2 linked regions of the Homo sapiens genome follow. The protein of the gene in region 1 binds, or shares a complex with, the protein of each later gene. Each region holds a gene or a part of one and is shown in the gene's direction. Other genes may lie near its edges.

The links.
Region 2: SYNCRIP (region 1) and GAPDH share a complex: the UniProt entries of both Homo sapiens proteins name them as parts of the GAIT complex.

Annotation. Positions count from the first base shown.
Region 1 is NC_000006.12:85,617,416-85,633,694, reverse strand, and holds part of SYNCRIP (heterogeneous nuclear ribonucleoprotein Q), read left to right. Parts: intron 1-9,582; coding exon 9,583-9,718; intron 9,719-11,007; coding exon 11,008-11,213; intron 11,214-14,277; coding exon 14,278-14,427; intron 14,428-14,755; coding exon 14,756-14,877; intron 14,878-16,279. UniProt on the Homo sapiens protein: Heterogenous nuclear ribonucleoprotein (hnRNP) implicated in mRNA processing mechanisms. Component of the CRD-mediated complex that promotes MYC mRNA stability.
Region 2 is NC_000012.12:6,529,069-6,538,997, forward strand, and holds GAPDH (glyceraldehyde-3-phosphate dehydrogenase), read left to right. Parts: upstream 1-5,448; 5' UTR 5,449-5,501; exon of another isoform or gene 5,502-5,741; 5' UTR 5,742-5,764; coding exon 5,765-5,793; intron 5,794-6,195; exon of another isoform or gene 6,196-6,401; intron 6,402-7,425; coding exon 7,426-7,525; intron 7,526-7,615; coding exon 7,616-7,722; intron 7,723-7,851; coding exon 7,852-7,942; intron 7,943-8,032; coding exon 8,033-8,148; intron 8,149-8,240; coding exon 8,241-8,322; intron 8,323-8,515; coding exon 8,516-8,928; intron 8,929-9,032; coding exon 9,033-9,102; 3' UTR 9,103-9,303; downstream 9,304-9,929. Other genes in the region: NCAPD2 (condensin complex subunit 1), read left to right, coding at 445-525, 707-890, 1,623-1,749, 1,853-2,008, 2,259-2,344. UniProt on the Homo sapiens protein: Has both glyceraldehyde-3-phosphate dehydrogenase and nitrosylase activities, thereby playing a role in glycolysis and nuclear functions, respectively.

The DNA of each region.
Region 1 (16,279 bases):
AGGGGGAAAAAAAAAATTTCCAATGGTAGGTATTGGTATACAGCCAGTAGGATATATTGGTCATACCATCATTTGCTTTTTTTGACTTTTTAGTAAGTTTTTTTGAAACGGAGTCTCCCTCTGTTGCCCAGGCTGGGGTGCAGTGGTGTGATCTCAACTCACTGCAACCTCTGCCTTCTGGGTTCAAGTGATTCTTCTGTTTCAGCCCCCTGAGTAGCTGGGATTACAGGTGCACACCACCATGCCCTACTGATTTTTGTATTTTTAGTAGAGATGGGGTTTCACCCTGTTGGCCAGGCTGGTCTCAAACTCCTGACCCCAGTCTCGGCCTCGGCTTCCCAAAGTGCTGGGAGTACAGGTGTGAGCCACCACACCCAGCCTACTTTTAAGTAAATTGTTTATTTTATTTATTTATTTATTTATTTATTTATTTGTTTTTGAGATGGAGTCTCACTCTGTTGCCCAGGCTGGAGTGCAGTGGTGCAATCTCGGCTCACTGCAAGCTCTGCCTCCCGGGTTCACGCCATTCTCCTGCCTCAGCCTCCTGAGTAGCTGGTACTACAGGCACCCACCACCACACCCAGCTAATTTTTTTTGTATTTTTTTAGTAGAGACAGGGTTTCACCGTGTTAGCCAGGATGGTCTCGATCTCTTGACCTTGTGATTCACCCGCCTTGGCTTCCCAAAGTGCTGGGATTACAGGTGTGAGCCACCGCGCCCGGCCTTAAGTAAACGGTTTTAATTATTATTACTGTTTTCGGAGACAGGTTGTCACTCTGTTGCCCTTGCTGGAGTGCAGTGTCATGATCAATGCTCACTAACCTTGAACTCCCGGGCTTACGTGATCCTCCTGCCTCAGCTTCCTCAGCAGCTAGGACTATGAGGGCACCACCTTGCTAGGCTAATTTTTAAACTTGTAGAGGTGGTGTCTCACTATGTTGTCCAGGCTAGTCTTGAACTCTTGGCCTCAAGCAGTCTTACTGCCTTGGCTTCCCAAATTGCTGGGATTACAGGCATGAGCCACTGCGCCTGGCCATTGTTTACTTTTTTTTTAAAAGGATGCTTTACTGTGGGTAGGATCTGGTAGATTTGCTTTAGCACAACAAAGAACTAGATTTTAGAGAAAGTGAAGTAATTGAAACATTCTAGAGAAAATACAAATCTCAAGTTTTTTTGGATGTTTTTTGCCACTTTGTATTCATTTGCGGACATGAATACCCCTTTCCTAAGTATGTTCCTCAAGGGCGCATACTTTGGAAGCTATCTCTACTGTGTTACATTTTGAGATTCTACTTGTTACAGTTCTATCCAAAGTGAGTTTTTAATTGAAGTGTCATTCTAGTTATATATAACTAAATGTTGGGAAAGTGCCTCATGCCTCCTTTGCATTATTTATAGATCAGACAAGATTGAAGCACCTCTGTTTCTCTTTTGAGTGTCTGGAGGAATACCTTAGGTTGAAATAGTTTTAGGTATTTGGCATTGTCTTTTAATACTGATACAGCAATGAATAGTTTCTCTAGGTTAAATAGTACTGTAGACTTTATATTTGTATGTGGACTTATAAAAATGGGTTAATTGATGTTAACAGTTGAAGAGGCATGAAGTTAATTGAAAGCAACTTCAAGTTTCTTAAATGACCCTGATTCTAGCCAACATCTACCTTCATTTTGGGGAATGAAAAAAATCCATTTGTAAATGATGATAATCTAGCTAGGGAAGCATGATCTAAACTTGTGAAAAGGTGATTAATAGCTACTACTTGAGTGCTTGTTAAGGGACAGGAGCTTTGTTAGATGCTACGTTATCACCTTTAAATTCAGCCTCAACAACCCTTTCTGCCAGGTAGTAGAAAGAAATAGACTTGCCTGAGGCCATACAGCTAAACATCCCAGCCCTAGTTTGATGCCAGGTTTCTTTAGCTGAGGTCCCTATTGTTAGACATAACAATTTAAGCCAACTGTACAAGTTACGTCACCAGGTAGCCTGATAACTTTAAATTATGTAGTGGTTTAGGTAGTGTTAAAAGAGTTAAGGAAGTAGGTCCTATCTGTTGCCAAAATATTTTAGCATCTAACACTTTTTATCTTCTTCGCTGCTACTACCCTAGTTAGTCTAAGGTACCATTTGTACCATTCAGACTACTGAAGAAACTTAGCTAGTCTCACTGCCTTCTGTTGCCCTTTATATTTGGCAACATCAATTAGATCACAGCATTCCTGTGCTGAAAAATGACTTACAAACAAGGCCCTATCCAGACAAGTTCCTTCTTACCTCTTTCCCCACTCTTCCTTTTAATTACCCTTTTAGCCATGTTTCGCCTTCTTTAAGCCATGGCCTTTTTTTTTTTTTTTTGGAGACACAGTCATGCTTTGTCACCCAGGCTGGAGGGCAGTGGTGCGATCACAGCTCACTGCACCCTCTGCCTCCTGGGTTCAAGCAGTTCTGCCTCAGCCACTGAGTAGCTGGGATTACAGGTGTGTGCCACCACGCCTGGCTGATTTTTGTATTTTTAGTAGAGATGGCGTTTTGCCATGTTGGCCAGGCTGGTCTCGAACTCCTGACCCCAAGTGATTTGCCCGCCTCAGCCTCCCAAAGTACTGGGATTACAGGCGTGAGCCACCGTGCCCAGCCAAGCCATGGCCATTATCATTTTAAGGCTGCCTTCTGCTGTTCTGCTTTCGTAGGGGTTGAAAGCAGCCCATTTATGACTGATGCTTTCTTTTCAGGTAGGGTGACATTGAGCACCTTACCACCCAGTTGCCCCCATGACAGTATTCTAAGAATGATAAAATAGATTTTGCTTGGATGAGCTTGTAATTATTTTTTGACTTTGTAAATTATTTACATGTCTTTTCCCATTAGAATATGTATATATTTTTCCTTTTTCCCTAACATTTAGAACTGTGCCCCATTATGTAGTAGGTGTTGGATAAATAACCTGACTTGCTGACCAGTGCTCTCTAATATTCTTATGTAACTCATGGACCATTTGCTGTTTTAATAGCCTCCATTTACAATTCTGTGCTACTTACTGCCCTGTGATTAAGGTAAATTAGTAGGTGATGATGCTTTCTTCCCTTACCTACCTAGGGGTTGTTTGGAAATAGACATGTTGATTTAAAGACCATGAAGAAGGGCAGGCAGGTGTGTTTATGTATTTGTGTGGTATGTTGCTGGAATTGGAGCCCAAGGCTGGTGATGCTGCAATTCCATGACAATCTTAAATAACGGAAATATCCTGATGAAATGCTAATAATGTCTATGTACAAGCATTGGAATAGATGAAATCTGTTTGCACGTTACGATTTTTTTTGTTTGTTTGTTTGTTTTTGAGATGGAGTCTCGCTCTGTTGCCCAGGCTGGAGTGCAGTGGCACGATCTCGGCTCATTGCAAGCTCCACCTCCTGGGTTCACGCCATTCTCCTGACTCAGCCTCCGAGTAGCTGGGACTACAGGCGCCTGCCACCACACCCGGCTAATTTTTTTGTATTTTTAGTAGAGACGGGGTTTCACCGTGTTAGCCAGGATGGTCTCTATCTCCTGACCTCGTGATCCGCCTGTCTCAGCCTCCCAAAGTGCTGGGATTACAGACGTGAGCCACAGTGCCCGGCCCACAAGTTATTTTAATAGCTCTGATGGTTCTGATGGTTTTAGTCACCAGATTGGTTATGTATACTGTCATGATGTGTATACAGCTTTTTTTTTTTTTTGAGACAAATCCTCACTCTCAACGAGGCTGGAGCACAGCGGCGCTATCTCAGCTCACTGCAACCTCTGTCTCCTGGGTTCAGGAGATTCTGCTGCCTCGGCCTCCCGAGTAGCTGGGACTACAGGAGCCCGCCACCATGCCTGACTAATTTTGTTTTGTTTTGATATGAATCTCGCCTTGTTGCCCAGGCTGGATTGCAGTGGCATGATCTCGGCTCACTGCAGCCTCCGCCTCCCAGGTTCAAGCGATTCTTCTGCCTCAGCCTCCCGAGTAGCTGGGACTACAGGTGAGCACCACCACGCCTGGCTAATTTTTGTGTTTTTAGTAGAGATGGGGTTTCACCATATTGGCCAGGCTGGTCTCAAATTCTTGACCTCGTGATCCGCCCACATCGGCCTCCCAAAATGCTGGGATTACAGGCATGAGCCACCGCACCCGGCCCTTTTTTTTTTTTTTTTTTTTTTTTGTATTTTTAGTTTGTTGACCAGGCTGGTCTCAAACTCCAAACCTTCAGTGATCCATTTGCTTCGGCCTCATGAACAGCCATTTTGATGAATGTAGTTGACAAGGTAGGTTCAGAGATATTTTAATAATAATTTAGCAAATAGTGTGTTTAGCATGAAAACTTTTACTTCAGATATACAGGTTCTTAGAGAGTTTATAGAACATGAAAGACTACTGTTACAGTGGAATCCAGTGGTGCAAAGCGTAAAGGAAGGATGAAGGGAGACTGGATTAGGGTTGTCAGAGAAGGCTTTGCAATAAAGAGGTTTGAGCAGCACAGTGAAGAAAAAAGGTGAATCTAGTTGAAGCAGTGTTTTGTGGAAATAAAACTTGTAATAAAGTCAGTGCCAGGAGTTAGTTCATACTGGGCTAAGCTGCATAGCACCCCCCACCCCCTTTTTGAGCCCTGATGTGGGTGGCATGTTGTAAGTGGCTGAATAATGAAGATTATTTGAATAAAGACAATAAAGGCCAGGAGGAGGGTGGCAGCAATAGAAAGGAGAAAGATCGGAGATTTTGGAAAGAGAAATGAAAGGCCATAGTGGTATGCTGTAGGTTGTATTCTAGTTTTTATCAAGAATTGAAAGTGTAGTTGGACTGTTCATGATACGTTTGGTAACTTGAATCTCCATTCAGTGATAAATGCCTTGGATGACCGTCAGGATCTGAAAAACTTTTGATAGCCTGAGATAGAAAGTTTATATCTACCAAGATGGAATTGACTAAAGTTAAGTATTTACACTAGTTTAACAAGCTGTGGTGTCAGTAATGTGTGGTTGCCAAATAACCTAGGGTAACACAGACAATATGTAAGAGTGGTATGGTGTCTAGAAGTGGAAAATTAGTAATAAGCTCCAGTTTATTCTAGACTCCTGTTTCAGTCTGCGTTTACAGTATTGTGTTAGAATGTCACTCTTCAGTGACACTTGTCAGTATTTCTTGGAGGTACTTTAGTTTGCCATTATCAGGGAAGCAATGATTAGCCAAGCATAGAAAACAACTGAGTCATGTGCTTGTGTGCCAGGTATATGAAATGCTGTCATTTGGGGGAAAGAAATAGGTTTATTTAAGGAAGTAGATTTTGGCTTATTGTAAAGAAGACTTTATAATTAAGAAATCTTTAGGCCAGGTGCGGTGGATCATGCCTGTGATCCCAGCATTTTGGGAGGCTGAGGCGGGCGGATCACCCGAGGCCAGGAGTTCGAGACCAGCCTGGCCAACATGGTGAAACCCTGTCTCTACTAAAAATACAAAAATTAGCCGGGTGTGGTGGCACACGCCTGTGGTCCCAGCTACTAGGGAGGCTGAGGCAGGAGAATCACTTGAAACCGGGAGGTGGAGGTTGCAGTTAGCTGAAGTCGCGTCACTGTACTCCATCCTGGGTGTCAGAGTGAGACTCGGTCTCAAAAAGAAAAAAAAAAGAAATCTTCAATGTGGAAGGCTTTGGAGGTAGGGGCTTTGCTGAGAAGAGTTAGGACTAAGCAGCCTCTTCTGGATCAGATTCCAAATTTGACATTGCTGAATTTCTGGGAATTTGGTGACTATGAGGGAAGGACTTAAAAGTGACTTAAAATTTTGAGACTTGATGACAGGAACGTTCCAGACTGTACTACTGTTTTGGTGTTCTTAAAAACTGAAACCTCACATTGATTAATGATCATAATTAATCTTCATTTTCTATTTGGTTCATCTCAGCTGTGGTACTGAGCTTGAAGGCTAGATTTTTACAACTAACAAGATTCAGGGCCAACCTTTCTAGAGTAGGAAAGATAAGACTTTTTGTGTGTGTGTGCTCGTTTTTTTATACCACTGTAGTGTCCTGATACACTTCTTGAGTTAGGGTTTACTAGTATTAAATTAGAATCTCTTATTCACATTTGTTTTTTGTATTACACCATTCACCATATAACTCACTGTTACCCATCTTGCTGGGATAAGTGTTTTTTTGTTTTTGTTTTTTTTTAGGTGATAGAGTGGCATTAGTGTAAGAAAGGTTAAGCAATTCAAATACACGTACAAAAAAAGCATGCGTAATCCGTAGATGGGGTGTTGCTTCCGGAAATGTTAATTTCTAGGTACTACTTTTGTTATAGTTGTACCCAGAGTCTCCTTACTTTGTTCGCTTAATGACTTATTTTCATTGGAGAGCCAGTTGACTCTCTGTGTTACCTGTAATACAATTGTTCCAAGTTTTTTTTTTTTTTTTTTGTAGAGATGGAGTCTTGCTCTGTTGCCCAGGCTGGAGTGCAGTGGCGCGATCTGGGCTCACTGCAACCCCTGCCGCCCAGTTTCAAGTGATTCTCCTGCCTCAGCCTCCCGAGTAGCTGGGATTACAGGTGCCTGCCACCACTCCCGGCTAATTTCTTTTGTGTTTTAGTAGAGACGGCGTTTCACTGTGTTGCCCAGGCTGGTCTCGAACTCCTGAGCTTAGGCAATTCGCCCGCCTCAGCCTCCCAAAATGCTAGGAGTACAGGCATGAGCCACCGCGCCTGGCCCAAGTTTTTTAATTGAAAAAATGTGGGTAGGGAGGAATCAGCAGTTTATTTTATAGATCCTGCTAAATCTTTGTGTTATTTATGTTGTTCAGAGACCACATCCATCCTTTGTACTTTCTACCTACCATGCCTTGGCTAACTTGATTAGCATCAGGGCTAGTGATGATGGGTAAGAAGGAAAAAAATGGTGTTTCTGTAGATAATAATGGAAACAGTTATTAATAATTTGAAGCAGCATTGTTAATGTTGATGGTTAATGGAAGTGTTGCCTATGTTACAGATTAGCTGTCTTCTCTATATTTCTTTGATTATTGTTGCCTTGATGGAATGTTTCCATTCTCTGTTGTCTTGCCTTTGCCTCCTACATTTCTTATAAGGATTTTGGTTCCTCTCAATGGTGTATTTTCTTGGTAGAACTAAGAATTCAAGTTTCTGTTAGAAGTTTTTTTAGAATTAGGTATTTTCTTATAGTTAATAGCTCCTGATTTTAGAACATTTGGAAAATACCAGTTCCCCCCCTCATTATACCAAAATCTGTCACCCCCAAAATCACTCCTGTTTTTGCCTTTACACACTTGGTATTTCTTTCCACCTTTTTCTGGTATTTTAATTGTTTTTGTTAATTACTAGAATTACTGATTGCATGACCAATTTGAAAACCACTGATTTGTTGCTAAGGCTGGCTACTTGATGCTAGATTATAAGAATCCAGGGAATGTACATATTTTAAAGTAATTTATTGTGTTCTTAGTTTAATTTTACTTGCAAAATAAGGCATTATAATCTACTTGTCCATAATTCTGTGCAATGATGGATTCAGCCATAGCTCTGCTACATTCAGGTAACATGTTTCTGCTGTTAAAAGATTATTAGTCTGGTAGAAGAGAAAGACATGAATGCTATATGAGAAAACAAAGTATATGGCAGGAGTTTTTAACCTCAGCACTGCTGATCTTTTAGACTAGATAATTCTTTGTGACAGGCTGTCTTCTGAATTGTTAGATGTGTATCAGCATCCTTCTGTCTACCCAGTAGATACCAGCAGCAAGTCCCCACTTCTTTCCAAGTTGTGACAATCAAGAATGTCAAATGACTTCTGGGGGGCAAAATCACTCCTGTTGAGAACTGTTGGTCTGTGTTAACATGGAGGAGTATTTTGTTGACCCTTTTAGGATTTATGTATTGTAGTATTGGGTGGTTGAACTTAATTTACAGGTATCCAGAGGAGCTTGTATGGTAGAAGTTTCAGGGAAGGAAGGCAATTTCTTCAGAGCCATAGGAGTATAAAAATTGCATGTGGCCCAGCATGGTGGGTCACACCTGTAATCCCAGCACTTTGGGAGGCCGAGGCGAGTGGATCACAAGATCAGGAGTTTGAGACCAGCCTGGCCAACATGGTGAAACCCCGTCTCTACTAAAAATACAAAAAATAGCCGGGCATGGTGGCAGGCGCCTGTAATCACAGCTACTCGGGAGGTAGAGGGAGGAGAATTGCTTGAACCCAGGAGGCGGAGGTTGCAGTGAGCCGAGATAGTGCCACTGCTGCACTCCTGCCTGGGGGACAGAGCAAGACTCTGTCTCAGAAAAGACAAAAAAAAAAAAACCCTGTATGTTTAAGAGTTGATATAAAAAGGTATTTGAGAGAGAGAGGAGAAAGTAGCAGGAGTCATCTTTTTACTTTTTTTAATGTTGTGTCTCTGGCATAAATGTAGAGAAATAGAAGTAAACCTGGGATCAGGAGGGCCACACACTTGAATAGCCTGTACAGAATAGTGGGGTAGAAAGCAATAAATTTTTCTGAACTGGAGGTATGGTATTTGAACTTTATTAAATTTTGATTTTCTGGAGATGGGGAAGGGACAGGGAGGACTCAACTTTCTGACTTACATGTTTTCTTCTGTTATACCCGGTGTACCTAGCAAGGATGGGCATAATAGAAGAATGGTTTCTTTTGCTGTAAGGTATTTCTATAAAGTTGTATGGAAATTGATGTTGGTTCTTTAGTTTGTGTAGCTCCACGTGTAGAATAGATTTTGAGGTTAGGTGTGGGAGGATTAATCAATAATTATTGCCGCTGCTGCCGCCATTATTAGTAACAAATTTTGAGGTGTGGTTTTAACTAACCCATATAATCCACTTTTCTAGATTACTTGGATACTTTTGCACTTGGGTTTGTAAATAATACTAATTGGTGGATTTGTCACTTTGACATGTTGCTTTTTGCCTCTGCTTTCTGATAATCTGGGATATGGTTACTCGAAAATTCAATTTACTTTTTACTGTAGTTTTAAAGTTGTTTCTGTATATTTTTGCCATGACAAATCTACTTCTCTTTCTCCTTCATAATTTGTTATATGCATAATGAAAATGAAATGGGGAAAAAGTACAGTTGGATTTAGAAATAAAAGCTGTTTTTTTAGGCTTAAATATTTGAAGCCTGAAATTTCTTATTACAACTTTTGATAAGAGGAAGGGAAGATGGAAAAATAGATTTAGGTGCTGGTTAACAGAACGGCAGAGATCTTGCTGATCTTGGGATCAGTTTTCCTTGTATGAGAATAACTGGTTGATGGGATGAACTTAAGTAAAAGTTAAGTTTTTGAGGAACTGGCAGTTTTTGAATTTAAGCTGCTGCAGATCTGATTTCTAATTAATCAAGTAAAGGATTTAATAACCTTTTATTTGCATTAAATTGGTTCATGAACTTGTCCAATGGGTCTTGTTAATATAATCTGTTCCTCATAATTCCCTTGTATGGGAATTAAGGTAAACTACTTTTTAAAGGATGATTTGCTCTTGTGTATCTTTTATAATTAACTGTTCTAGTTGTATAAGTAATTTAAAAACATGATGCACTTTTTCCCCTTTCAGTATAATAATCATGAAATTCGTTCTGGAAAACATATTGGTGTCTGCATCTCAGTTGCCAACAATAGGCTTTTTGTGGGCTCTATTCCTAAGAGTAAAACCAAGGAACAGATTCTTGAAGAATTTAGCAAAGTAACAGGTAAGTTGGATTTATTTGGAATGAGGTGCAGCTTTTAATAATGAAGATTAATAGCATATTTCTGTGCGTCATGCATTGTTCTAAATACATTTATTGACTCATCGAATCCTCACTACAACTTTTGAAGTGTAGGTAACCCCATTTTTCAGATAAGAAGAACAGGCATTCAGGGATTTGGGAAATAACTTGCCAAACGTTGTACAAGTTAGTAGGGAATACAGCTAGGGTTTGAATTCATTCTGCAAAATCATTGTTCTTCCTATGTTTTGGAAGATCGTATTTCTTTGTGTGTTCTTTCTCTAGGTGTTAGTTGATGTTCTTAGTAGAATTGTTTGAATAATGATTTGATGTTCTTGAAATTACAGGAGTAGTAAGTATTGCCGTAGCAGAGTGTTTTTTTTTTTTTTTTTTTTTGGAGACAGTCTTGCTTTGTTGCCCAGGCTGGAGTGTGCTGGTGTGATCTTGGCTCCCTGCAGCCTCTGCCTCCCAGATTCAAGGGATTCTCTTGCCTCAGCCTCCTGAGTAGCTGGGATTACAGGCGCGCACCACCACACCTGGCTAATTTTTGCGTCTTTTGTAGAGGTGGGGTTTCACCATATTGGCCAGGCTGGTCTTGTACTCCTGACCTCAAGTGATCTGCTTGCCTCGGCCTCCCAGAGTGTTGCGATTACAGGTATGAGCCACCGTGCCTGGCCCATAAACAGAGTTTATATATTGTCAACATGGTAAAAAAATTTTTTGAACTGTAACAACTTTTAAGTGACAGGTTGCTTTTAGAAAATATTTTGGTCTGCCAACAGTGTCTAACAAATTATCAGCCTGTTATCAACTTTCAGGACATTGGAAATTTTTATGCAGTACTTATAACTTCTATTTTATTTGAAATAAAGCCATTGATATCTAAGGCCAGAAAAGTGCCATTAAAAATAATTTTAGTGTTTGCATAATAAGAAAAATAGCCATATTTGATCTATACTGCCATTTTCTTAGAACAATTATATGAAAATTTTTATCTGCCTCTCTGATCTAATTAGTGAAAACAAAAGTAGTCCTTACCTCTAAAAAGAGCACATGTTCTTTTCTGGAGATTTCTGTGTTGAAAAACTTGGAAACAGATTAGGAAAATAATCCGGACCTAGTTTTTGATAGTCTTTTATAAAGATGTCTAGTGAAGGAAAGAGATGATTTTTCATTTTGATATTTAAGTAGTATCTTAGATAAATCCTTTGATCCACTTGTATTTGCTAGTTATTTCATCTAATTTTCCTGGAATGGTTGCTTACTTGCAGAGGGTCTTACAGACGTCATTTTATACCACCAACCGGATGACAAGAAAAAAAACAGAGGCTTTTGCTTTCTTGAATATGAAGATCACAAAACAGCTGCCCAGGCAAGGCGTAGGTTAATGAGTGGTAAAGTCAAGGTCTGGGGGAATGTTGGAACTGTTGAATGGGCTGATCCTATAGAAGATCCTGATCCTGAGGTTATGGCAAAGGTAATGATAGTCAAGTTAAAAATATTTTTTGAGGGATTAATGGGAGAAGGGCCGGGGTTGGGGTGGGGGGAACATAAAATGAACAGTATACATTTTTTTATTTTTTGAGACAAGAGTCTCTTGTTTCCCATGTTTCCCAGGCTGGAGTGCCATGGTGCCATCTTGGTTCACTGCAACCTCCGCCTCCCGGGTTCAAGTGATTCTCCTGCCTCCCAAGTAGCTGGAATTACAGGCTCCCACCACCACACCTGGCTAATTTTTGTGTTTTTTTTAGTAGAGCTGGGGTTTCACCATGTTGGTCAGACTGGTCTCGAACTCCTGACCTCGGGATCCACCTACCTCGGCCTTCCAAAGTGCTGGGATTTAGAGGCGTGAGGCTATTGCACCTGGCCCTGGACACATTTTTTTTTAAACCATATTTTTAGAGTTGGGAGAAATGTTCTTTACTACGGGACTAGGCAGTGCGCACTGGAAATACCATGTGCCTGCAAAGTGAAAATAGAAATTGATGCGTGGATACTTAGCCATAATTGTATAGCCATCACAATCTTGTAATGAAGTCGCCTACATGCTGTAGACAGTTGACTTCCATTTTGTGTGTTTTTTAAGAGCAATTTGAGTTTTTGAGAATGGCACCATTAGTTTACATGGTTTTGGGGTTAAAAGTCTTACTACTAAAAACAGTAAATTATACTGGCCGCAGCAGAGGTGCTTGCAGTTACATTTAGCCATTATTAGGTATCCTGACTTCAGCAGTCAGTGGAGACATTGTATAAGAATAAACATCCCTTGAGTCAACACTTTATTACACACTGGTGCAGTAATTTGCAGTTATTTGTTCTATCCTTTGTTCTCTTTTTTTTTTTTTTTTTTTAAGTGACAGGGTCTAGATCTGTGGCCCAGGGCTAGAGTTCAGGGGCATGATCATAGCTGACTGTAGCCCCAAGCTCAAGAGATCTTCTCACCTCAGCCTCCCAAGTAGCTAGAACTACAGGTGTGTACTACCACACCTGGCTAATTTTTTTAAAAAATTTTGTAGAGGCAGAGTTAATCTCCCTGTGCTGCCCAGGCCGGTCTTACAATTCTTAGCCTTAAGCAATCCTGCTTCCCAAAATGCTGGGATTACAGGCATGAGCCACCATGCCCCAGTTATCCTTTGTCTTTTAAGAATTCCCTCTTTGTTACTTACAGGTTAGGTGTCAGACACCACTAGTTGAGTTAAATTGAGGGTAATATGAACTGCCAGGGAGCTATGAATATTATTGAAGGATAAGTGGTCTTAGAGAAGAGAAAATAGTTAGGATTCATTTTTCCTCTGGCCTATAAATTCTCATTGGGTTAGCACTTTAGATTAACACATTCAGATGGTATTCAAGTTATTTTAGGAGGAAGTGATAATGTTAGTGAAGAGGTTAAATTTTGTAATTTTACTTTGAGAAGCTTTCAGGATTGAGAACAGTTTGTCTTACTAATATTTTGAACAGTCCTTCCCCCTTTAAGATTTCAAAAGCAGGTCCTAATTAGTTTTGGCCACTCTTGTTAAGTGTTAAACATTCAATAACTCTCTTAGAGGGCATGGTATTTACTTTGTTAGGAAAAATTATCTTTTTTATTGCAAAATAATTACTAATTGGTAATTATTACTGATGTAGCCTGTAGTCTGCATTTTCTTTTTCATAGACTTCATTAGAGCAGTTTTAGGTTTACAGCAGAAAGCACAGAATTGCCATATGACTTCTGCCCCCTACACAGGCACAGCCTTCCTCACTACCAGTATCCTGCACTGGAATAGTACATTTGTTAAAATTGATGGACGTAGATTGATTACCTAAAGTCCATAGTTTACATGAGGTCTCACTCTAGATGTATGTTCTGTGGGTTTGGAGAAATGTATAACCGTGTTTCCATCATAGTATTATACAGAATAGTTTCACTGCCCTAAAAATCCTCTGTCCTGTGCTTAGTCATCCCTCCCCATTCAACCACTGGCAGTCACTGTCTCCATAGTTTTGCCTTCTCAGAATGTTACATAGTTGGAACCATACATTATGTAACCTTCACATTGGCTTCTTTCTCTTAGTAATACATATTTAAAGTTCTTCTATGTCATTTTGTGGCTTTTAACTAGTTTCTATCAGTTATAATATTCCTTCTGTATGTGCCACAATTGTCCATTCTCCCATTGAAGAACATCTTGGTTTCTTCCAATTTTTGGAAATTTTTTTGTTTTTCTTTTGAGACAGAGTCTCGCTGTGTTACCCAGGATGGAGTGCAGTGGCACGATCTCGGCTTACTGCAACCTCTGCCTCTTGGGTTCAACCATTTCTCATGCTTCAGCCTCCCGAGTAGCTGGAACCATAGTTGCGTACCATCGCACCCGGCTAATCTTTGTATTTTTGTAGAGACGGGGTGTTACTGTGTTGGCCAGGCTGGTCTCGAGCTCCTGACCTCAGGTGATCTGCCCGCCTCAGCCTCCCAAATTGCTGGGATTACGGGTGTGAGCCACTGCGTCTGGCAAATTTTTGGCAGTTACAAATAAAGCTGCTATTAACATCTCTCTCTAAGTTTTTGTGTGCATGTAAGTTTTCAACTCTGGGTAAATAAGGAGCAGGATTGCTGGGTCATATGGAAGTGTGTGTTTAGTTTTGTAAGAAATCGCCAAACTGTCTTTCAAAGGGGCTATACCCTTTTGCATTCCCACCAGCAATGAATGAGAGTTTCTATTGCTCTGCATTCTTACCTGCATTTATAGTGTGTTGGATTTTGGCCATTCTAATAGTTTTGACTTGCGGTTTCCGAATGACAGATTATATTGAGCATCTTCATGAGATTCTTTGCCATCTGTATATCTTTTTTGGCAAAGCATCTATTTCAGGTCTTTCAACATGATCCAGCAGTTCTGCTGCTTGATATTTACCCAAGGAGTTGAAAACTTTTTTTTTTTTTATATTCTGACATTCTTCTAATGGATTGTGATTTGAGTTAACTTTGTAGGGTGGGGTGGTGGTATCTTAGAAATGGAACTCTTTGGAAATAATACAGGGGGGTATTTTCTTCCCCCTAGGTAAAAGTGCTGTTTGTACGCAACCTTGCCAATACTGTAACAGAAGAGATTTTAGAAAAGGCATTTAGTCAGTTTGGGAAACTGGAACGAGTGAAGAAGTTAAAAGATTATGCGTTCATTCATTTTGATGAGCGAGATGGTGCTGTCAAGGTAAATATGGTGGAATTACAGGCATCTAAATCAGACTAACAAATTTAGTCATTTTAGAATCTCAAAATAGTTTTACAAATTGGAGGAGACTTTGGAAGTCCATGGAATCCATTCAAACTAAAACCTTTTGGTTTTAGTGATGTTGGCAGTTTTCTAAGTAAAAATGAAAAATAATTGAATATCTGCATCTTTAAATAAAATTATTTGACTGCCTGCATGGGGCTTTCTCTTGTCCTTCCCACATTAATGATAAATGATATTCCAACTTTAAATGAATCATAATTGTATGAAAGTCCTATTTTTATATTGACTTATCTAATTTTTTAAGGCTATGGAAGAAATGAATGGCAAAGACTTGGAGGGAGAAAATATTGAAATTGTTTTTGCCAAGCCACCAGATCAGAAAAGGAAAGAAAGAAAAGCTCAGAGGCAAGCAGCAAAAAATCAAATGTGAGTGAAATTTGTATACTTAAAAATTGTATAAATTTTAATATTTATACACTAATTGGAAAATAACAGGTGTTGATCAGACTTGTTAAATGCATAACATCTCTTTAAAGAAGACTTGAACGTTTGAGAGTCATAGGGAAACACCAGTGATCTAAGTGTTTATTGAACTCTTACTATGAACCATATTTGTGAAAATAATCAGAATTGTAAATAACTGGAATTTTGGTAAATTGGCAAGATGAAAAATCTGTCTAGCTTTTTTTTTGTTTTGTATTGGGTGACAGAGTCTCACTTTGTCACTCAGGCTGGAGTGCAGTGGCACTCTTTCGGCTCACTGGAACCTCCACCTCCCGGGTTCAAGAGATTCTCCTGCCTCAGTCTTCTGAGTAGCTGGGTTACAGGCGCCACCATGCCTGGTAATTTTTGTGTTTTTTTTTTTAGTAGGGGTGGGGTTTCGTCATGTTGGCCAGGTTGGTCTCAAACTCCTGACCTCAGGTGATCCGCCCACCTCTGCCTCCCAAAGTGCTGGGATTACAGCTGTGAGCCACCATGCCTGGCCTATCTCACATATTTTCTTTGTATTTTACAGAATGTTCTTCTGAAAATGTCTTAAATATTAGCTGTCCAAATATCTTAATACATTTTGTTAAAGGGTGGAGAGTTTTTTCTCTGAGAGATAGGAAATACTAAATCTCTATTCATGATAGACTGTTTCTTCACCAGTAGTGCTCATTGCCACCCCAAAAATTTCATGTTCGATGGATGGATTTTGAAAATGAAATGAGTATTAAAATTATAACACAGTAGTGCAATAAGAAAACAAGTAGGTGTGTAATGAGTTATACTAATTAGGGAGACCTTTTTAGAGAATCTGTAAATAGGTATCTGCTTAAGACTGAAGGAAACTTAGTTGGGTAAGAATTGAAGTTAGCTCCTAAAAAGTTAGTTACTGATTTCCTAGAAGAGGGGTAATTGTTCTTGAATGTGAGAGCAATAATCACTGTCAATACTATTCAAGGTTAATTTTCTGTTGATTGCCCTGTTTGGAATTTAAAGGAAGAGGATGCTTCTACATATTTCTGTTACTTCATAATCAGGGAATTGATCAAGTTCTAGTTTCTGCAGTTAATTGTCCAGTTGGACAAGTTGGCAAGCTCTGAACCTCAATTTCTTCAGTTCTAAAATGGGATCAGACAAAATTATGTAATAGCTCTGGATTATGTGATTATCCAAGTGACCCATGCTTGTTCTGGGACCAAAGAAAATATACTTTGTAGGTTTGATGATAGTGTAAATGAAGGAAGACTACAAAAAGAGTTAGTTTTAATGCTCTATATTTCAAACACCTGGATATACTAAACAGTGTAAAATAACTTCTTTTTATTTCTTTCAGAAGACGATA
Region 2 (9,929 bases), on another chromosome or scaffold:
TTCCACATAGCACGGGCTTAGGAATCAGACACACCTGTATTTGAATTCCACCTCGGCTACTCTTTAGCTGTACAGCCTTCGGCAATAACTTAGCCTCTCTTTGTGCCTATTTCCTCTTCTTTTGAGGCTGATGATACTTAACCCTTAGTTCTTGAAAATATTAAATACGATAAAGTTCCTAACATGGTGGCAGACATACAGTAGCACTCACTCCCTAGCAGCTGCTCCTGTTAATTTCCATTCACAGTGAAAATTCCTGAGCCGGGGGCGGGGTGGGGTCCCTCTCTGCTGAATGGGACAGGGCAAGGGGAGTGGTGAGGCAGACAGGGGCCGTGGCAGAGAACATCAGAGAAGACGAGTGCTGGGGGAGGGTCCAGGGTTGGTCTTAGTGGATGGCAGAGCTGGCCCTGGGCCATCGAACATCCTCATCTCCCCTTCCTGCAGACAGCTCCTCTCCTACATCACCAAGGACAAGCAGACAGAGAGCCTGGTGGAAAAGCTGTGTCAGCGGTTCCGCACATCCCGGTATGCTGCCCTCCCTGAGGGTTCTTTGTGCTGAGCGGGGCCCTGCAGGGGAGAAAGGCCCATCCCTCACCCCTTCAATGCCCCCACTGTGGCATCCCTGGGACTGGGGAGGCTGATGGGGAAGGTTGAGCCTTTACTAGCTGGATCTCCCAGTTCCTCACAAAGCCCTTCCTATCTGCAGAACTGAGCGGCAGCAGCGAGACCTGGCCTACTGTGTGTCACAGCTGCCCCTCACAGAGCGAGGCCTCCGTAAGATGCTTGACAATTTTGACTGTTTTGGAGACAAACTGTCAGATGAGTCCATCTTCAGTGCTTTTTTGTCAGTTGTAGGCAAGCTGCGACGTGGGGCCAAGCCTGAGGGCAAGGTGAGCAGCACAGGACACTTCAATGCCTGTTGGGTTCTGGGCTGGCTAAGACATCTGCCGGCCCTGGGCAGCATACGGCTCTTGCAGTCACCTTCCCGTCCTCCTTATCCCCAGCTGGGTTGCAACCAAATTGCCAGAGTGACCTAAGACCAGATCTTTGTCTCCAGTTCTTTTTTTATTACTCCAAAAACACAACCAAAGCAGCATCTCATCCAATTCTTGTTTGTTTGTTTTTAATAGTTTTTATTTTTCAGAGCAGTTTTAGGTTCAAAGCAAAATTGAGCAGAAAGTACAGGGAGTTCCCTTCTACCCCTTGCCCCTACACATCACAGCCTTCCCCACCTTCAACATCCTGCACCAGGGTGGCACATTTGTTACAGCTGAACCTACACTTACACATCATCTCCTAAAGTCATGGTTTACCTTGGAGTTCACTGCACGTAATGACATGTACCCACCATTGCAGTATCATACAGAAGAGTTTCACTGCCTTACAAATCCCCTGCACTCCACCTATTTATCCCTCTCTCCCCACAACCCCTGATCTTTTTACTGTTGCCATCACTTTGTCTTTTCCAGAATGTATCATTGGAATGATCCGGTATGGAGCCTTCTCACCTTGGCTTCTTAGTAATGTGCGTTTAAGGCCTCCATGTCTTCCATGGCCTTGTTTCTTTTTAATCAGAAGTAACTGTTTTCAGGCCTGCTCTGAATCTCCTTTTCTCCCTCCAGGCTATAATAGATGAATTTGAGCAGAAGCTTCGGGCCTGTCATACCAGAGGTTTGGATGGAATCAAGGAGCTTGAGATTGGCCAAGCAGGTAGCCAGAGAGCGCCATCAGCCAAGAAACCATCCACTGGTACGTAAGGCAGCCTGTGCGGGCGAGACCAGACTGGGCCCTCCCCTCCTGCAGTGATTTGTTTCTTCTTCTTTTTTAAATCACGTTTTCCTGCCTTTTCTAGGTTCTAGGTACCAGCCTCTGGCTTCTACAGCCTCAGACAATGACTTTGTCACACCAGAGCCCCGCCGTACTACCCGTCGGCATCCAAACACCCAGCAGCGAGCTTCCAAAAAGAAACCCAAAGTTGTCTTCTCAAGTGATGAGTCCAGTGAGGAAGGTATGATGCTCCCGCCTGTTCCCGGCCGAGAAGGCACACAGCTAGGGTGCAGAGGGCTGGTTTCCATAGGACCTGCTGCGGGGGCCTGAGTGTAGATGCTCTGCCCCACTGCCGCAGAAGGGCCTCTCCTGTACAGCTTGGATTTTATTTCTTCTGTGCGGTGTGGGATTGTCTCACTTGTTCTCTGATATCTATTTTTTCACCATCTTTGTGACTCAGCTTTTTCTTATTCCTTTAATTCTTTGCATAGATCTTTCAGCAGAGATGACAGAAGACGAGACACCCAAGAAAACAACTCCCATTCTCAGAGCATCGGCTCGCAGGCACAGATCCTAGGAAGTCTGTTCCTGTCCTCCCTGTGCAGGGTATCCTGTAGGGTGACCTGGAATTCGAATTCTGTTTCCCTTGTAAAATATTTGTCTGTCTCTTTTTTTTAAAAAAAAAAAAGGCCGGGCACTGTGGCTCACGCCTGTAATCCCAGCACTTTGCGATACCAAGGCGGGTGGATAACCTGAGGTAGGGAGTTCGAGACCAGCCTGACCAACATGGAGAAACCCCATCTCTACTAAAAATAAAAAATTAGCCGGGCGTATTGGCGTGCGCCTGTAATCCCAGCTACTCAAGAGGCTGAGGCAGGAGAATCGCCTGAACCCAGAGGCGGAGGTTGTAGTGAGCCGAAATCACACCATTGCACTCCAGCTTGGGCAACAATAGCGAACCTCCATCTCAAATTAAAAAAAAAATGCCTACACGCTCTTTAAAATGCAAGGCTTTCTCTTAAATTAGCCTAACTGAACTGCGTTGAGCTGCTTCAACTTTGGAATATATGTTTGCCAATCTCCTTGTTTTCTAATGAATAAATGTTTTTATATACTTTTAGACATTTTTTCCTAAGCTTGTCTTTGTTTCATCTTTCACATTAGCCCAGTTTCATGCAGCAGAGAGAGGGTTATCAGTGCAGAGAGAGATGAGTGAGCCCAGAGTCCTAGGGCCTGTCCCGGGATGGCAGATGAGCTTCCTGCCCCGTCACTGCCACCTTTCCCCTCTCAACCTCTGGACCCTGCACAGTGACCAGACAGCCTCTCTGGGGAGAATTATGCAGTGCCTAGGCTCCAGATCAGTGCTTCTGAACCGGGGGCAATTTTGTCTGCCAGAGGACATCTGACAACACCTGGGGCCTGTTTTGTTGTCATAGCCTATAGGGGAAGAATGCTACCAGCATTTGTGGGAAGAGGCCAGGGATGTGGCTCAACATCCTGCAGTGCACAGGATGGCCCCTCAACAAAGAATCACACGGCCCACAATGTCAATAGCGTCACAGTTGAGAAAACCTGCTCTAGACCAAGGGTTGCTTTCTGCCGTGTGCCTCACCCCACCCCCACTCGTGTTCCCTAATCCCATCTCCAAAGGTTGGCAGCAGACCGGCCCAGGCTCGTGGAAGTTCAGATCATGATCCCCTCCAGCTCTGCAGGAGACAAGACCTGTCTCCCAGCATTCCTCATTGTTCCCGGGTCTGCAGAGGGCGTGAGCTATGCTGCAGGCGGGCTGCCCCCTGAAGCCTGCGCACCCCTCTCCAGCTCCTCAAGTCTTCTCTGCTGAGTCACCTTCGAACCGGAGGCTGTGAGCTGGCTGTCGTGACCACACTGGTGCCTCTGCTGTCATGACAACAGCACACTACGTCAGTAGTGCTCCCTGGGCACTGAGCTCCCTCTTTGCGGGGAGAAGACAGTAATGAAAAATGACAAGCATGAGGCAGAGGGGAAGATCACGCTTGGGTGGTGCAGGAGCATGGAGGTGCTCTTAATGCTCTCAATGAGAAAGGGTTAACGGTCCTGGTTGCAGGAATAGCTGAGTCAGAGGTGGGGCTTCCTCCACTCCCCCACCCCACCCCTTTCACCATTAGGGACCTTCTTGCCTTGCTCTTGCTACTCTGCTCTGGGTGGTCATTGTGAAAAGCCCGCACCAACCATGCCAGTGGCAGCCAGACGAGGACACAGCCTGGCTCTGGGTCCCAGCAGGAAAGGCAATCCCAGAAAGGCAGGGTCAGGGACTGGAGTCCTGTGGGTGCTTTTTAAGCAAAGATTATCACCAGGCAGGCTAAACTTAGCAACCGGCTTTTAGCTAGAAGGGCAGGGGGCTGGTGTCAGGTTATGCTGGGCCAGCAAAGAGGCCCGGGATCCCCCTCCCATGCACCTGCTGATGGGCCAAGGCCACCCCACCCCACCCCCTTCCTTACAAGTGTTCAGCACCCTCCCATCCCACACTCACAAACCTGGCCCTCTGCCCTCCTACCAGAAGAATGGATCCCCTGTGGGAGGGGGCAGGGGACCTGTTCCCACCGTGTGCCCAAGACCTCTTTTCCCACTTTTTCCCTCTTCTTGACTCACCCTGCCCTCAATATCCCCCGGCGCAGCCAGTGAAAGGGAGTCCCTGGCTCCTGGCTCGCCTGCACGTCCCAGGGCGGGGAGGGACTTCCGCCCTCACGTCCCGCTCTTCGCCCCAGGCTGGATGGAATGAAAGGCACACTGTCTCTCTCCCTAGGCAGCACAGCCCACAGGTTTCCAGGAGTGCCTTTGTGGGAGGCCTCTGGGCCCCCACCAGCCATCCTGTCCTCCGCCTGGGGCCCCAGCCCGGAGAGAGCCGCTGGTGCACACAGGGCCGGGATTGTCTGCCCTAATTATCAGGTCCAGGCTACAGGGCTGCAGGACATCGTGACCTTCCGTGCAGAAACCTCCCCCTCCCCCTCAAGCCGCCTCCCGAGCCTCCTTCCTCTCCAGGCCCCCAGTGCCCAGTGCCCAGTGCCCAGCCCAGGCCTCGGTCCCAGAGATGCCAGGAGCCAGGAGATGGGGAGGGGGAAGTGGGGGCTGGGAAGGAACCACGGGCCCCCGCCCGAGGCCCATGGGCCCCTCCTAGGCCTTTGCCTGAGCAGTCCGGTGTCACTACCGCAGAGCCTCGAGGAGAAGTTCCCCAACTTTCCCGCCTCTCAGCCTTTGAAAGAAAGAAAGGGGAGGGGGCAGGCCGCGTGCAGCCGCGAGCGGTGCTGGGCTCCGGCTCCAATTCCCCATCTCAGTCGTTCCCAAAGTCCTCCTGTTTCATCCAAGCGTGTAAGGGTCCCCGTCCTTGACTCCCTAGTGTCCTGCTGCCCACAGTCCAGTCCTGGGAACCAGCACCGATCACCTCCCATCGGGCCAATCTCAGTCCCTTCCCCCCTACGTCGGGGCCCACACGCTCGGTGCGTGCCCAGTTGAACCAGGCGGCTGCGGAAAAAAAAAAGCGGGGAGAAAGTAGGGCCCGGCTACTAGCGGTTTTACGGGCGCACGTAGCTCAGGCCTCAAGACCTTGGGCTGGGACTGGCTGAGCCTGGCGGGAGGCGGGGTCCGAGTCACCGCCTGCCGCCGCGCCCCCGGTTTCTATAAATTGAGCCCGCAGCCTCCCGCTTCGCTCTCTGCTCCTCCTGTTCGACAGTCAGCCGCATCTTCTTTTGCGTCGCCAGGTGAAGACGGGCGGAGAGAAACCCGGGAGGCTAGGGACGGCCTGAAGGCGGCAGGGGCGGGCGCAGGCCGGATGTGTTCGCGCCGCTGCGGGGTGGGCCCGGGCGGCCTCCGCATTGCAGGGGCGGGCGGAGGACGTGATGCGGCGCGGGCTGGGCATGGAGGCCTGGTGGGGGAGGGGAGGGGAGGCGTGTGTGTCGGCCGGGGCCACTAGGCGCTCACTGTTCTCTCCCTCCGCGCAGCCGAGCCACATCGCTCAGACACCATGGGGAAGGTGAAGGTCGGAGTCAACGGGTGAGTTCGCGGGTGGCTGGGGGGCCCTGGGCTGCGACCGCCCCCGAACCGCGTCTACGAGCCTTGCGGGCTCCGGGTCTTTGCAGTCGTATGGGGGCAGGGTAGCTGTTCCCCGCAAGGAGAGCTCAAGGTCAGCGCTCGGACCTGGCGGAGCCCCGCACCCAGGCTGTGGCGCCCTGTGCAGCTCCGCCCTTGCGGCGCCATCTGCCCGGAGCCTCCTTCCCCTAGTCCCCAGAAACAGGAGGTCCCTACTCCCGCCCGAGATCCCGACCCGGACCCCTAGGTGGGGGACGCTTTCTTTCCTTTCGCGCTCTGCGGGGTCACGTGTCGCAGAGGAGCCCCTCCCCCACGGCCTCCGGCACCGCAGGCCCCGGGATGCTAGTGCGCAGCGGGTGCATCCCTGTCCGGATGCTGCGCCTGCGGTAGAGCGGCCGCCATGTTGCAACCGGGAAGGAAATGAATGGGCAGCCGTTAGGAAAGCCTGCCGGTGACTAACCCTGCGCTCCTGCCTCGATGGGTGGAGTCGCGTGTGGCGGGGAAGTCAGGTGGAGCGAGGCTAGCTGGCCCGATTTCTCCTCCGGGTGATGCTTTTCCTAGATTATTCTCTGGTAAATCAAAGAAGTGGGTTTATGGAGGTCCTCTTGTGTCCCCTCCCCGCAGAGGTGTGGTGGCTGTGGCATGGTGCCAAGCCGGGAGAAGCTGAGTCATGGGTAGTTGGAAAAGGACATTTCCACCGCAAAATGGCCCCTCTGGTGGTGGCCCCTTCCTGCAGCGCCGGCTCACCTCACGGCCCCGCCCTTCCCCTGCCAGCCTAGCGTTGACCCGACCCCAAAGGCCAGGCTGTAAATGTCACCGGGAGGATTGGGTGTCTGGGCGCCTCGGGGAACCTGCCCTTCTCCCCATTCCGTCTTCCGGAAACCAGATCTCCCACCGCACCCTGGTCTGAGGTTAAATATAGCTGCTGACCTTTCTGTAGCTGGGGGCCTGGGCTGGGGCTCTCTCCCATCCCTTCTCCCCACACACATGCACTTACCTGTGCTCCCACTCCTGATTTCTGGAAAAGAGCTAGGAAGGACAGGCAACTTGGCAAATCAAAGCCCTGGGACTAGGGGGTTAAAATACAGCTTCCCCTCTTCCCACCCGCCCCAGTCTCTGTCCCTTTTGTAGGAGGGACTTAGAGAAGGGGTGGGCTTGCCCTGTCCAGTTAATTTCTGACCTTTACTCCTGCCCTTTGAGTTTGATGATGCTGAGTGTACAAGCGTTTTCTCCCTAAAGGGTGCAGCTGAGCTAGGCAGCAGCAAGCATTCCTGGGGTGGCATAGTGGGGTGGTGAATACCATGTACAAAGCTTGTGCCCAGACTGTGGGTGGCAGTGCCCCACATGGCCGCTTCTCCTGGAAGGGCTTCGTATGACTGGGGGTGTTGGGCAGCCCTGGAGCCTTCAGTTGCAGCCATGCCTTAAGCCAGGCCAGCCTGGCAGGGAAGCTCAAGGGAGATAAAATTCAACCTCTTGGGCCCTCCTGGGGGTAAGGAGATGCTGCATTCGCCCTCTTAATGGGGAGGTGGCCTAGGGCTGCTCACATATTCTGGAGGAGCCTCCCCTCCTCATGCCTTCTTGCCTCTTGTCTCTTAGATTTGGTCGTATTGGGCGCCTGGTCACCAGGGCTGCTTTTAACTCTGGTAAAGTGGATATTGTTGCCATCAATGACCCCTTCATTGACCTCAACTACATGGTGAGTGCTACATGGTGAGCCCCAAAGCTGGTGTGGGAGGAGCCACCTGGCTGATGGGCAGCCCCTTCATACCCTCACGTATTCCCCCAGGTTTACATGTTCCAATATGATTCCACCCATGGCAAATTCCATGGCACCGTCAAGGCTGAGAACGGGAAGCTTGTCATCAATGGAAATCCCATCACCATCTTCCAGGAGTGAGTGGAAGACAGAATGGAAGAAATGTGCTTTGGGGAGGCAACTAGGATGGTGTGGCTCCCTTGGGTATATGGTAACCTTGTGTCCCTCAATATGGTCCTGTCCCCATCTCCCCCCCACCCCCATAGGCGAGATCCCTCCAAAATCAAGTGGGGCGATGCTGGCGCTGAGTACGTCGTGGAGTCCACTGGCGTCTTCACCACCATGGAGAAGGCTGGGGTGAGTGCAGGAGGGCCCGCGGGAGGGGAAGCTGACTCAGCCCTGCAAAGGCAGGACCCGGGTTCATAACTGTCTGCTTCTCTGCTGTAGGCTCATTTGCAGGGGGGAGCCAAAAGGGTCATCATCTCTGCCCCCTCTGCTGATGCCCCCATGTTCGTCATGGGTGTGAACCATGAGAAGTATGACAACAGCCTCAAGATCATCAGGTGAGGAAGGCAGGGCCCGTGGAGAAGCGGCCAGCCTGGCACCCTATGGACACGCTCCCCTGACTTGCGCCCCGCTCCCTCTTTCTTTGCAGCAATGCCTCCTGCACCACCAACTGCTTAGCACCCCTGGCCAAGGTCATCCATGACAACTTTGGTATCGTGGAAGGACTCATGGTATGAGAGCTGGGGAATGGGACTGAGGCTCCCACCTTTCTCATCCAAGACTGGCTCCTCCCTGCCGGGGCTGCGTGCAACCCTGGGGTTGGGGGTTCTGGGGACTGGCTTTCCCATAATTTCCTTTCAAGGTGGGGAGGGAGGTAGAGGGGTGATGTGGGGAGTACGCTGCAGGGCCTCACTCCTTTTGCAGACCACAGTCCATGCCATCACTGCCACCCAGAAGACTGTGGATGGCCCCTCCGGGAAACTGTGGCGTGATGGCCGCGGGGCTCTCCAGAACATCATCCCTGCCTCTACTGGCGCTGCCAAGGCTGTGGGCAAGGTCATCCCTGAGCTGAACGGGAAGCTCACTGGCATGGCCTTCCGTGTCCCCACTGCCAACGTGTCAGTGGTGGACCTGACCTGCCGTCTAGAAAAACCTGCCAAATATGATGACATCAAGAAGGTGGTGAAGCAGGCGTCGGAGGGCCCCCTCAAGGGCATCCTGGGCTACACTGAGCACCAGGTGGTCTCCTCTGACTTCAACAGCGACACCCACTCCTCCACCTTTGACGCTGGGGCTGGCATTGCCCTCAACGACCACTTTGTCAAGCTCATTTCCTGGTATGTGGCTGGGGCCAGAGACTGGCTCTTAAAAAGTGCAGGGTCTGGCGCCCTCTGGTGGCTGGCTCAGAAAAAGGGCCCTGACAACTCTTTTCATCTTCTAGGTATGACAACGAATTTGGCTACAGCAACAGGGTGGTGGACCTCATGGCCCACATGGCCTCCAAGGAGTAAGACCCCTGGACCACCAGCCCCAGCAAGAGCACAAGAGGAAGAGAGAGACCCTCACTGCTGGGGAGTCCCTGCCACACTCAGTCCCCCACCACACTGAATCTCCCCTCCTCACAGTTGCCATGTAGACCCCTTGAAGAGGGGAGGGGCCTAGGGAGCCGCACCTTGTCATGTACCATCAATAAAGTACCCTGTGCTCAACCAGTTACTTGTCCTGTCTTATTCTAGGGTCTGGGGCAGAGGGGAGGGAAGCTGGGCTTGTGTCAAGGTGAGACATTCTTGCTGGGGAGGGACCTGGTATGTTCTCCTCAGACTGAGGGTAGGGCCTCCAAACAGCCTTGCTTGCTTCGAGAACCATTTGCTTCCCGCTCAGACGTCTTGAGTGCTACAGGAAGCTGGCACCACTACTTCAGAGAACAAGGCCTTTTCCTCTCCTCGCTCCAGTCCTAGGCTATCTGCTGTTGGCCAAACATGGAAGAAGCTATTCTGTGGGCAGCCCCAGGGAGGCTGACAGGTGGAGGAAGTCAGGGCTCGCACTGGGCTCTGACGCTGACTGGTTAGTGGAGCTCAGCCTGGAGCTGAGCTGCAGCGGGCAATTCCAGCTTGGCCTCCGCAGCTGTGAGGTCTTGAGCACGTGCTCTATTGCTTTCTGTGCCCTCGTGTCTTATCTGAGGACATCGTGGCCAGCCCCTAAGGTCTTCAAGCAGGATTCATCTAGGTAAACCAAGTACCTAAAACCATGCCCAAGGCGGTAAGGACTATATAATGTTTAAAAATCGGTAAAAATGCCCACCTCGCATAGTTTTGAGGAAGATGAACTGAGATGTGTC